Homo sapiens: one gene and its partner. The protein of the gene in region 1 purifies or fractionates together with the protein of each later gene. This does not show direct contact. Each region holds a gene or a part of one and is shown on either strand. Other genes may lie near its edges.

Region 1 (3,652 bases):
CAGTAGTAATCCAGACAAGAGATGATGGTAGATTGGGCCAGGGTAGTAGCAGGGAGAACCAGCTGGCTATGCTGATGGATTGGATATGGCGTATAAGACAGACAATTGAGTATGAGCCTTCAAAGTGTTTTGACCTAGTGGAAGGATAGAGTTGCCTTGTACTGAGTGGGAGACAGGTTTAGGAAGGAAGATCAGGAATTCTGTTCTGGATATGCTGAGCTGGAGATCCTTAGACATCCAAGTAGAAGCATTGAGTCTGCAGTTGGATACATGAGCCTGGAGTTCTGGAGAGAAGTGGGGACTGCAGATGTAAATTTTGGGTCTTTTGGTATATGGGTGGAACTTAAGGAGTAAGAATAGAGGAGGAACAAGAATGAGCCCTGGGGGCAGTCCATTGTAAAGAGATTGGAGAGAAGAGAGATAACTAGCAAAAAAGACTATTGAGAATCAAAACTAGGGCGTCTGTGGTATCCTGGAAACCAAGTGGAAAAAGCCTTTCAAGGAGGGAGGGGTTGGATGAGTGGAATGTAAGTGATGATTGGACTTAACAAAGCAGAGGTCCCTGGTTAGTGGTTTTAGTAAGTGGTAGAACAAAAAACCTGACTGAAGGGGGTTTAAGAGTAGAAGGAGGGGAAGTAGAGGCAATGTGTTATGCCTCAACAGGAAATAAGATGGGATAATCTTTTTCTTTTTCTTTCTTCTTTTTTTTTTTTTTAGAGACAGGGTCTCTATCTGGTGCCCAGGCTGGACTGCAGTGGCACCAGCACAGCTCACTGCAGTCTTGAGCAGCCTTGAGCAGCCTTGAGCAGCCTTGAACTCCTCGGCTCAAGTGATCCTCCTGCCTCAGCTTTCCAAAGCAGGCTGAGATTACAAGCATGAGCCACTGCACCTGGTCCCTAAAATGGGAGAATTAACAGCATGTTTGCATGCTGATGAGAATGACCCAACAAAGACAAAAAATTAGTGACACAGGAAAGAGAGGGGAAGATTTGTGGAACAACATCCTTGAAAAAGCATGGGGGATCTGTGCCAAAGAGAGACACAGACATACAAAGGTGCTATCCTTGGGTCGCAATGAGATCACCAGTCCATTGATCCTATCACCTTTTCACTGTTTCAATCACTTGATATGTCCACCCTTATTTAACTAACTTGAATCCCATGGTCAGATATTACGCAGGTTCCCTGGATCATCTGTGGCTTTGGAGCACTTTGTTGGCCAAACCACAACCCTGACTAAATCCACCTCTGCCAAACGAGTGCGCCAAAACCATAATTCAGTGGACTGGTGACCTCAGTGGGATCATAGTTGGGGTTGAGGGAGTTAGCCAGAAAGACACGAGGTGGTGCGTTTTTATGTGGTGCATAAATGAGGTTACGGAGAGGTTGCAGTTGTTGGTTTAGGTTATGCCTGAGGGAGTGTCCACAGTAGAGTAGAAGTCAAACTCGCTGGAGAAGAGTTCAATAAATAGCAAAGATCATGTTTTTGTTTTTGAAGCAAGGTCTGGCTTTGTTGCCCAAGCTGGAGTGCAATAGCGTAAGCTTGGCTCACTGCAACCTCCCTTTTCCCGCTCAAGCCATCCTCCCACTTCAGCCTCCTGAGTAGCTGGGACTACAGGCTCACGCCACCACACTCGGCTAGATTATTATCTTTGTATTTTTTATAGAGATGGGGTTTCACCATGTTGCCCAGGCTGATTTCAAACTCCTGGGCCCAAGCAATCCGCCTGCCTAAGCCTCTTAAAGTGCTGGGATTACAGGCATGAGCCGCTGCACCTGGCCAGCAGCCAAGATTTAAGGCAGGAGTAGTGTTGGAGAGTGACAGCTAAACCAGGAGGTCAGTAGATGGTAGTAACAATGGAGATTGATTAGTATATAAGTTCCTGTATTAACTTGAATATATACATCCAGGAGCAGACAGTAAGGTCGAGTAAATTGTGGTCCTGCCTGATTGCTCTTAACAAGGGCTGCTCCAGTTGATACACAGAACTGCAGTAAAATAAGAGATTCTGTCTCTTTGCATGTTTCTCAACACTTGGTATTATCTTTATAATTCCAGTCAATTTGATTATCTCATTATCTTACAGTGTTTTTCGTATTATTAATAATGCTGATCATCTCGTTAGCCATTCAGTTATCCCCTCCTTGTGAATGCTGATTCATATCATTTGTCCATTTCTAAGTTTGTGTTGACCTTTTACATATTGATTTGTAGGAGCTCTCTATGTATCAGAGAACTGAGAAATTTGGATTGAAGTTTTGCTATTTTGTTTGTTTGTCTATTTGTTTTTTGCTTATGGTGATTTTTACTATGTTAGAACTTTTTTTTGAGACAGAGTCTTGCTGTGTCACCTAGGCTGGAGTGTAGTGGCACGATCTCAGCTCACTGCAACTTCTGCCTCCCAGGTTCAAGTGATTCTCCTGCCTCAGCCTCCCAAGTAGCTGGGACTACAGGTACACACCACCAAGCCCGGCTAATTTTTTGTACTTTTAGTAGAGATGGGGTTTCACCTTGTTGGCCAGGCTGGTCTCAAACTCCTGACCTCAAGTGATCCACCTGCCTCGGCCTCCCAAAGTGCTGGGATTACAGGTGTGGGCCACCGCACCTGGCCAAACTTTAATTTTTGTGCTATAATATGTGCATAAAACTTACAGATTCATTTTGAGGGTAACTGGCATCTTAATAGTATGTATTATAAGTCTTTGTTCAAGTATTTTAAGTTCTTTATTTAAGAGCTGAGATGGGAAGATTGCTTGAGTTGGGAGGTGGAGATTGCAGTGAGCCGGTGTCACACCACTGCACTCCAGCATGGGCAACCAAGCAAGACCCTGTCTCCAAAAAAACCCCAATTTTTCTATCTTTTGCTACTTTTTCCTTTTTTGAATACTATGTTGAATATTAGCAACATAATAGGCATCCTCTCTAATTACTGAGCTCTCCGATAAGTATATCATTTCTCAAACAAAAGCCTAGATTCATCTGTAATATAATGACACTCATAGGGACAGTGAGGGGGCAAAAATAGTTTTTGTCCTGAACAACCATTAATGGTGGTGCCACTTGCTAAGACAAAGAATACAGGAAGGCCAGGCATGGTAGCTCACGCCCGTAATCCCAACACTTTGGGAGCCCGAAGCAGGAGGATTGCTTGAACCCAGGGGTTCGAGACCAGCCCAGGCAACATAGACCCTCATCTATACAAAAAATACAAAAATTGGGCTGGGCGCGGTGGCTCAAGCCTGTAATCCCAGCACTTTGGGAGGGTGAGGCAGGCAGATCATGAGTCAGGAGTTCGACACCAGCCTGGCCAATATGGTGAAACCACGTCTCTACTAAAAAATACAAAAATTAGCCGGGTGTGGTGGCGTGCGCTTGTAGTCCCAGCTTCTTGGGAGGCTGAGGCAGGAGAATCACTTGAACCTGGGAGGCAGAGGTTGCAGTGAGCCAAGATCGCGCCACTACACTCCAGCCTGGGCGACAGAGCGAGACTCCATCTGAAAAAAAAAAAATACAAAAATTAGTGGGGTGCAGTGGCATGTACCTGTAGTTCCAGCTACCTGGGAGACTGAGGTGGGAGAATCTCTTGAGCACACCACTGCACTCCAGCCTGTGCAACAGAGCAAGACCCTGTCTCAAAAAAAATACAAGAAT
Region 2 (3,652 bases), on another chromosome or scaffold:
GTAATTATACATATAACATACATATTTATGTATAAGCATATAAACATATAAAAATACATATTATATATTTATTTATATTATATATAATTATATATATATATATATTTTATGAAGACAGGGTCTTGCTCTATCGCCCAGGCTGGAGTGCAGTGGTGTGATCTTGGCTCACTGCAACCTCTGCCTCCTGGGTTCAAGTGATTCACCTGCCTCAGCCTCTTGAGTAGCTGGGATTACAGGCGTGCGCCACCATGCCCAGCTAATTTTTGTATTTTGTAGAGATGGGGTTTCACCATGTTGGCCAGGCTAGTCTCGAACTCTCAACCTCAGGTGATCTGCCCGCCTTGGCCTCCCAAAGGGCTGGGATTACAGGCATGAGCCACTGTGCTTGGCCTTGAAATGTATTTCAAAGAAATTGCTTTATCCAGCTGCTTAGGTGGCCAATTACTCCTGGGTAATTTGAATGTGGCTACTTTAAGAATCTAAATTTTTCTGTCGTATGTATTTGGAAATAAGATTTGAATATGCCAGGTAAAAAGTTCAATAAACACAAAGAAAATTATGTAAAATGAGTTAAAAACTATGTCTTAGGCAAATAGGAAGGCTTACTCTTGGAAAGTACAAAAAATATGTAATATATCCTATTTATAATTCTATAAACTTTATGTTGATAAAAGATTACGATTTAATTTAAGGCCTTTAATGAAACAGAAAAAGGCCAATATATGTGTATTTCAGGTTAGGAGACAAGTTTAGTCAGCATTTTCATGTTTGTGAAAATTTATAGCCTTAAATGTTCAGTTTTAAAATTCAATAATTTCTCAGAACAATTTATGAGTTTGCTAATTACTGCTGAACTCTAGCTTCTGGTTAACATTAGGCTCACTTCTACAATGGCATTAAAGTGGCTTAAAAGAAGATACATGATGCAGTTAGATAAAACAGAAATGTAAAATCGGAGATGGAAGGCAGAAGTAATTTTTGGATAGTAAATGCACTGATCTTAAGAGCTATTTAAATGTAACTAACTTAAACACCCAGGGCAAAAATAATATGCTGTTGTTTTAAATTACAGTGTAGAGAATAATACAAGCATTTAGTGAATGCTTATACAGCTGGGAAAATGTTTCAAGAAAAAGATGGGGAATTGACTTGGGTAGTAGTACAGTTCAGTACAGAGATGGGACACTCTTGCAAGAGTAACCCAAGGCACAGAGGTGACAAAAACGTGCTGTATGAAAGGGAGAGGGAGACTGGCCTCATCACAACAGATCATTTATGCTGGAGAACTACAATACATCTGGCATGTGGTATATGGTGCAACTCATCAATAGTCATAAATGCTGGCTATCTTGATCCTTTAAGTACAAAGAGGCCATAAAAGATGCTTGAACAGAAAAATAAAATTAAAATAATTTTTAGGTAAATTAAGTCAATTAGCAGTACACAACAGAGCAGTCTACAGTGTGTTTTGAGGAGAATGCCGGAAATAAAACTAGAGAGAGTGGGAGGAGTTAAAAATCTGTCACAGTAGTAATTGAAGATAACTTTTCTTATGAGTGGCTGCCTGCCTCTCCTCCACAATGCCCTACTACACTACTCACTGAGTATCTTGTCATATTAATACCTGGTAGTAGTCAACATTTGGCCGATGTGAACATGCTGGAAAAAATACAAGTCTTATACTTCTGGATATCATCTTTTGTCCACATTGTCTACCATAGTAGATTCCTAACATGTTTACTTCATGAGCAGTAAAGGGCTTGGTATGGTGGAGGCAGTGGGAATAAACAGAACGGAAGAACCCAAGATATATAAAATTATCAACACTTGTATCAATTTGGTATTAAGGTTCTTACCACTTTATTTTTATTTTTTTAAAATGGAGAATGGGTCTCGCTATTTTGCCCAGGTGGGTCTTGAACTCCTAGGCTCAAGCTAACCTCCCGCCTCTGCCTCCCTAAAAGCTGGGATTACAGGCATGAGTCACTGTGGCCAGCTCTTACCACTTTTTTTAGTACCTCAACTTTTGTTACTTTTCAAAGTAACATATACATTATGGCCTATATATCTGGTCTATTGCTGGATTATTTTTATGGCTGTGATCTAAGAATTACTTTTACATTTTTAATGGTTGAAAAGAAAAAAAGGATATTTCATGATACATAACTATTATATGAAATTCAAATTTCCTGTAAATAAAGTTCTACTGGAACACAATCATGTCCATTTGTTTATGTATTGCTAAGGGTGCTTTCATGCTATAATGATAGAGACGGATAGCTGTGACAGAGATCATATGGCCTGCAAAGTTGAAAATATTTGTTTGGCTTTTCACAGAAAACAATTTGCCAACCCCTGCCCTATATCATAACATATTTTTTATTTGGCAATACTTGCAAAATTTATAAACATGCTTTTTTTACGAAAGGTTACAAGGATCTCTGCATTTTCTACTAAACTATTATTCATGCTTTTCACCTGCTAATTTTACAATTCCAGCAATCCAGAAGACTTTGGTAGGTAGGCTGCAGTCTGTATTGGGAACTTCTACTCTCACATTTTCTGAGATATCACCCCAGCAGGTCCCCATAGGTGCCTGTCACATAAAAATCATTAAATTATTGTCTTATTAACATAAAGCCTAAAACATATCAATGAAAATTAAGCAGTACCATCAATAATAGGAATATTAAACTAAAAATGTCATTTTAATTCCGTTTGTTTCCTAGAATTCTATCTGGAAAAAGCCAGTTTCAGGGACAAACAAGATAAAGAGAAAATTCACATATATTAGACTAGATTCATGCTGACTTCAAAATCTGATACTGTCCTAATATGAGATTTAAGCAGCGATTTTTCTATGAGTGGAATTACAAACTCAATAGCAGATTTAATAGGATTAAACTGATTTAAGAAATTTTTAATATGTACTGAGTGAATACACTTCACCCTAATTTCTACTTTTAAAAGATCTGGCCTAAGAGCAGAAAGAAAAACAATTCCAATCAGCAGTGTGGTTTCCAACAACATGAATAAGAGAAATGAAAATTTTCAATTTAAATTAAATTCATAGATTAGAAATCTAGTCCACATAGATGGACGTGAGGGAAAAGCACTGGATAAAGTTATTAAGAAGGTGGAGTTGAAGAGTTTTGGAGATGAGTACCATGGTAAACTATTTAAATTATTATTTCAAAATTTCTCATGTAGAAATTACTATAAAGAGAAAACTTCCAATGTTAGAACCGGTAATCACTAGCCTCCCACAGCAAATGGTTAAGATGGGGACTCGGAAAATCAATTAAATGAGCATCATGAAGGGATTTTCTGAAATCTAACAGATGTTCCCAAAGTATTGTTTCCATTATATTTTAATCTTTAAAACTCAAGGCAATTCACAATTACTTGGAACTTATGCAATGGTAAATTAAATCAAATAAGCAAATTTAAGAATATAAATGCTGATAACACTAAACAGTTTGTGTTGCTCTGGACAGTCAGTTCCTCATTCAATTTAGAATGTTGATCATAAAGAAAAGGATTATGTGAGGTTATAAAAGACTTGATAGTATGAACAAATCAGGAAAAACCAAAATAGCCTCAAAGCTCAAAGATGAGCAAAGATATCTAGGAGTTACATGAACTAGCCAAT

The links. The genes of interacting proteins can lie anywhere in the genome.
Region 2: the proteins of FOXR1 (region 1) and MBTD1 purify together in Homo sapiens (affinity purification with mass spectrometry; 4 studies listed by BioGRID and IntAct, with this or other methods). This does not show direct contact.

The regions. Positions count from the first base shown.
Region 1 is NC_000011.10:118,974,720-118,978,371, forward strand, and holds part of FOXR1 (forkhead box protein R1), read left to right. Parts: intron 1-3,652. UniProt on the Homo sapiens protein: Transcription factor which acts as both an activator and a repressor.
Region 2 is NC_000017.11:51,204,410-51,208,061, forward strand, and holds part of MBTD1 (MBT domain-containing protein 1), read right to left. Parts: intron 2,597-3,652; coding exon 2,479-2,596; intron 1-2,478. UniProt on the Homo sapiens protein: Chromatin reader component of the NuA4 histone acetyltransferase complex, a multiprotein complex involved in transcriptional activation of select genes principally by acetylation of nucleosomal histones H4 and H2A.